2 separate regions of the Homo sapiens genome follow, and region 2 is linked to region 1. The links come from fine-mapping of genetic effects on gene expression. A gene starts in region 1. The other region holds a variant in brackets. All regions are shown on one strand. Distances are from middle to middle. Region 1 holds the start of ADGRL2 (adhesion G protein-coupled receptor L2). Region 2 has its middle 430 kb from the start of ADGRL2.

Region 1 (2,915 bases):
ATTAAAAAATGCATGGCTACGGGAGCCTCATCCTAACCCCCTTGCCAGCGCCCCCGGCAACTAGACTGATGCCTGGAGAGCGTTACAATGGCTCCACGAGAAAAGGAGAAGCCGGCTGGACCGGACTGAGAGTTCTGCGGATCGATTTCCAAGAGGAGATTGGGGGGAGGGAGCGAGCAGCCCGAGCGAGCGCGGGTCTCCCCCTGGGCCAGCCGAACAGCAACAGCCGAGCCCCATTAACCCGCGGCTCCCTGCGCCTCCAGCATCCACCCCCGGACTGGAGGCGCAAAGCAAACAGGTCTCCGAAGCTGGGCACAGAGGCACATTGTTCGCTCCTGCGGCTCTTACCTCCGTCTGCGAGCGCGCCCCGAGGGAGGGCCGTCTGGCGTGGGGGCCGCGCGGGGACAGGCGCGGAGGGCAGCGGCTACCCCGGCCGGAGAGGGCCGAGGCCGGCCGCGAGCGGGTCCTCGGCCGCCGAGTCCGCGCGGGAGGCAGCGCCGCAGCTCCCCGGCCGGACACGGCGCCGCAGCTCGGCGCGTCCTCCTGCTCGGCCGCCGCCGCCTCCAGCCGAGCAGCCAGCGCCGGGCGGCTCCTGGGGTTAAGTCAACATTTTCCCGCAGTTTCCCACACGCCGCTCTTCGAGAGAGGTCTTTCACACACACGCACACACCCCCAGACCGCACGCTCCCTTAGGAAAAAAAAATCGGGAATCAGAGCGAAAGGGGTGGTGGAAGCAAAAGCCTGACAGAGGTGCGCAGACTTGGGAGTCCCTTCGAAGCGACGGGCGGGAGGGCGCCGGGGGCGCGAGGCCAACTCAGTTTGTCAGGCGAAGCCCCTCAGCCCCCCGAGCGCCCGGCCGGAATAGCATCCCTCGCGCCGACCCTGCGGCCTGGGGCGGGAGGCGGCGGCGACCCCTCCTCACATTTCGGATCTCCCGGCCGGGGCTGAGCGGTGGCCGCTGCCCCAAGGAAGGCTGGCGGCGCAGACTCGGGCTCGGGGAAGCAAGGAGTAGCCGGGAAGAGCCACGCCACACACAGCAGCGGAGGGGAGATGCCCCCCAACAATCCCAAGGAATTCTCTGGTAAGCTCCCGATTTCGCCCCAGCACCTCTGCGTGTGTGTGAGCGGAGAGAGAGTGAGAGGGAGCGAGAGGGAGAGAGAGAGAGACGGGGGAATGCGAAGTCCTGACACAGACTCTCCGCGAGGTCTGAACTGGAGTCACCTCCAGCCTCCTCCTCCTCCTTCCCCCAAATCCGCCCTCCCCGCCAGTTGGGCTAATCATATAAACATACTAGCGTGTACAGCGTCAAAGGACAAATCTCTCCCTCCTGAGTTTTCCAGCAAGGGGCTCGGGCAAACTCAAAAGAAGATTACAGGCAGCTAAGTACAAAACGTGGAGCAGATAATCTATAACTCATTGTCGCCCAATGGCCGTTTTCCACTCCATTTGAGCAGCTGCTGCGGCTGTGCGCCCAAGCGGCGGGGAGGAGGAGCGAAAGGGGATACTTACGGGCTCGAGCCCTTCGGACGGCGGTGGCGGTGGCCAAGCAGCCGCCCGAGGACCAGGCCGGCCCCGGCTCCGCCGGCGGGGCGGCCGCAGGGCTGTCCGGGCGGCGGTGGCGGCGAGGGACGCGCGCGCACGGCCGTGGAACGCGCCCCGGAGGCGGCCTGCGCCAGCTCGCGCCCCTCCCCTTCTCTCCCCTCCCAGTCGGTTCGCGCTCCCCCTACCCCCAGGTCCCCGAGCTCTGCCTCCAGCTCCCCCCATTAACACACCCATTCAACCGCTAACCCCTAGCCCACCCCCAAACTCCACTCACTGCGCGCTGGGTCCTCCGCGCGCTCCGCCGGCGCGCGCTCTCCATCCTGTCCACACACATGCACTTTAAAAACATTTATTTTATTTCTGGAGTGGGTGAAGAGTATTTGGGAGAGCGCCGCGAAGCGCGGCGCTCCGAGGCTGAGCGCAGGGGGATGACCAGCGGCTCGGGGCCCCCTCCCCTCTAGGCCCAGGAGCTTGCTCCCGGCCTGGACTTCGGAGAGGCGCCCGGGATGCGTCTTTCACCCACCCCGTCTCCAGGTTTTCTCTTTTCTCCACGCACCGAGCCAGAGGCCCCGAAACTTTTAGTTTCCGTAGCCCTCCTTTTGTGTAACTGCATGGAGGAGAAAGAACGTCTGTTCGCCGCGGCTGCCTCCGTCCGGCTGCGGCGCGCGGGGGACGCTCCAGGGTTAATGCGTCTTTGATACCTGAGATTTCCGGCGCGCTCGTTAATGAAAGTTACATTTTTTTAAATTGCGATGATTTTTTTCTTTGTAGTTACGTAGAGCCAGCTAAACTTTGACTTTATTGACTATATTTCACAAGAGCGTTTTGTTTGTTTTTGATTAAACTCACCAGGATAAGCAAAGGAAGGAAAGGAGACTACAAGGCTCTTTACTCTCAAGTATAGTCACAGAGCTGTTAGGTCTGTTTCCCTCATTTCCTTACATTGAAACTGCCTTTGCTCTTGTCCTCTGAACACACTTCCTTGCCCCTCTCGGTTGGCAATGTCAGCAAACAGCCAGGCAGAGCCTACGATGGACCTAAGCTGAAAGGAACAGAGCAGGACAGGGCGAATCACGCTGGAAAAACGTTTAAAAGCCAGTTAAGTGTCCTGTGCATGCCACAAAATTCAAACATGGATTTTTTTTTTATTGCAAAATTTCTGAGCTGGAAGCAGCTATGTTTTCAGATGTATTTGTAAACCACTGATTCTACTAATGAATGCAGCCATCAATTAAATAAGCATATTTACCTTTTTTTCAAGAAAAAAATGATTCTCCAATATTTAAAACCTAGAAAGTAGGATAAAACTTAAGCTGCTTTGCTTTCAGAAACAATAGGTACTTTTTGGTGCTGCAGGAATGTTGCAAGCATCA
Region 2 (2,915 bases), 430 kb after region 1:
ATTGCTTCATGTTGTCCAGATACTGCCAGATTCAGATTATGTCTCCTAAATCACTTGCTTTTTTCCCGGTTTTGAATCATCTGCAATTTTGGTGGCCCACCCTCCGTGTCATCATTCAAACTCTTGTTGAAAACAAACATTTAAGGTTAAGTAATGAAGTGTCACACTTATGCCACACCACTAGAGATGTTTTTCAGGCTGACTTCTGTATATTCATTCATTCATCCTTATTAATGTATGTAATTTTCTAGACATTGAACTTATTTTTTTCCATGTTTTACAAGAGAAGTGAGGCTGTTTTGTGGTCCTAGATACTTTATGCTAGTTATATTTCCCTGATGAACCCTGTAAGTAGCATCACTAAGGGAAAACTGCTGCCAGTCAGGCTCTGTTTGTTCTTGATAAACTCACAGGAGTTTTGTAATTGTTCCTTCTCATTCTCAGTTTTCATAATCCATCCTGTTATTAAGCCTTTTTGAATCTTCCAAAGAATATATGTGGAACTCATTGGGAAAATTGAAGATGGAAATGTTTGACATTTCCAGTCCAGGTTTTCAGCTGTAAGTATGGTTTTGCCCCCAGGCTCATCCTGCTTAGGGTTTTTCATAGGCTAACATTTTGAGAAGTGGGATCAGGAGTTATTAATTATCTCCATCTTAGAGGACTAAAGCAGGAACAATGATTCAGTCATTTATTCAATGTTATCAACATTTATTGGACACTTTCTAAAAGGTTCTGTACAGAGGTAAGACTGAATTGCCACCAACTAGATATTTACCAGATATTGGATGAGACAGAGGTCCTCTGCATGTGACCCCCAAATTAGCAGCATTAGCATGACCATGGCACTTGTTGAAAGGGAAAATTTTGGGGCTGCACCAAGACATACTGAATCAGAGACTATTGGAAGCTCTGTTTTAACAAGCTCTCTCCCTTTGAATAAATGTGATGATGCACATTAAAAAGTGAGAACCATTGGAAGAAGACATTTATGTAAAGAAACAATTACAGTTCTATACTAAGCTGTTGCCAACACACTTCTGGGGAACAGAGGAGTGATTAAGCAAAATAATATGGGAGTACATCATCAATCTGTGTGCCTGGGTCAGACATATAAGTAGACAGGTATAGTTTGGTTTCAAGAGCTTCATTACAGAAAGGAAAATTCTCTCTAACTGCCTAGTTATGTACATTATTTTAACAGATGACAAAGTCAATTATTAAACAAACAGAAAATTCGTACTTTAACATGTTTTTGGAATGAGATGGAGTAACAGAGAAAATAAACTAATCAACTAATTAATTAATCAAGAGCCATAAGCAAAGGAAGCCAAAAACATCTGATGAGGTAAAACTGTGAAACTTACTTATGCTGAATTATAATCAATCGATCCAGCAACAGATAAGCTTTCCAGGTTGTACAGGTGCTAGCAAATGGGGGCATGAGGGTACAAATGAGAACAGCAATCTTGACTGCACTGATATTTCCCCCTTGTGTTTGCCATCTCGGCCCTCCTTACATAATGTGCAATTATTTGGCATTGCTTAACATTTTTATATCTTAGAAGTAACATGGGTTCCTGAGCTCTAAATGTACCAATATTCTTTGAATGATTTATGAAGACTTTTGTTCACTTTTTTCTCAGCAAGGTTTGACTTTATCTTTATTCTCAGATGATTAATTAAAGTACTACTGTAATAGTTT[C/A]CCATTTTAAAAAAGTTGATTGATGTAGAATTTGTAAGGTTCTACCGACATTGCAGACTTGAGAATGACCTCCTATTTCACATGAACAATGGATAGGTTGTTTGTTTCGCTTTGACATGTGATATCTAAGATCTTTATGCCATAGCTTACTGGTCTCGGGACAGAGATCTCAGTGTTCTAAGCCTCCTACACTGACCCTTCTCACATGACTGCCTGTCAACTGTACCTACAACAGACCTGTGTTTTAGCACTTATTCCTTTTTTCTTTGTTTATTTACACATCTGTTACTTTCATTGTAATTTAAGCATGCTAGATTTTCTGTTTATTTCAATATTCCCAGCAATTATCATAATACTCGACATGATTTGTTCAATAGGAATTTATTGAATAATGAATGAATGGTTACATGGATCGATGGGTGAATCAAATAACCCATGATGAAGTGCATAATTTTTCTTGTTCAAAAACATGGCATACTTTCTGAAAAATGGCCTCTGTATTTCCCAGTAAACAATTAAGATAAAAACAATCACAGAGATTTAAGGCTACACCTTTACACTATATTTCAGGTTACTTCTTGTATGTAATGCAAAGTTTCATTTACAAGGAAGATAAATGATTAATTATGGAATACTTGTCCTATGCTATGCCAAATGCTTTACATTTCTTATTTTATATTCACAAAAAGCAAGTATTTACAAGTGTCAATATTAATAGAAACGTGTAAGATTTTTAGTGGGAAACATTAGTTTTGGAAACCCAGATGTCATTCTACAAACTCATCTTTTTTATTGATACTTTTCTTTCCTTATCATCCTACTCCCCATCTTTTAGTTGTCTTTTTCCAGCTCCCATTTGTTTCTCTGCCTTATGCTATTTCAACCTTACTTGGTATTTAAAAATAGACTTGGTGGAAATATCTACCCTAATTTGCACAGAACACTGAGATTTTATTCCTATGGCTATAGTTCAAAGTTCAAACAGGCATAAGAAGGGTGAGGTGGTCGGTTCTAGTAGCCTTGGCTAATGTAATGGTTCTGTGGATGGTGGAGGCCCTAAAGATGCTGCTGCATTTTCCACTGAAAGCCACTATTAATGAACTACAGAAAATGAGAACTTATTCCCCTTTTCAGTAATGTCTGCCTCACTTGGGTACACATGGCCTAAATAGATACATTTTTAAAAGCATTTTATTAGCATACTGAAAAT

Evidence for each region. PIP is the estimated chance that this variant, and not a neighbour inherited with it, causes the effect. A credible set is the group of variants that fine-mapping cannot tell apart.
Region 2: its variant is the best candidate, but not a certain one, in a credible set for the expression of ADGRL2 in pancreas (GTEx, PIP 0.88).

Annotation. Positions count from the first base shown.
Region 1 is chr1:81,799,663-81,802,577 of GRCh38, reverse strand. ADGRL2 (adhesion G protein-coupled receptor L2) reads right to left here and starts at 1,644. Exons shown (of 24, transcript NM_001366006.2): 1 at 1,510-1,644.
Region 2 is chr1:81,370,985-81,373,899 of GRCh38, reverse strand. It overlaps a transcript of ADGRL2 not described here. Among named protein-coding and RNA genes, the nearest start is that of ADGRL2, 430 kb to the left of the region's middle. The variant C/A (reference allele first, on the strand shown) is at 1,706.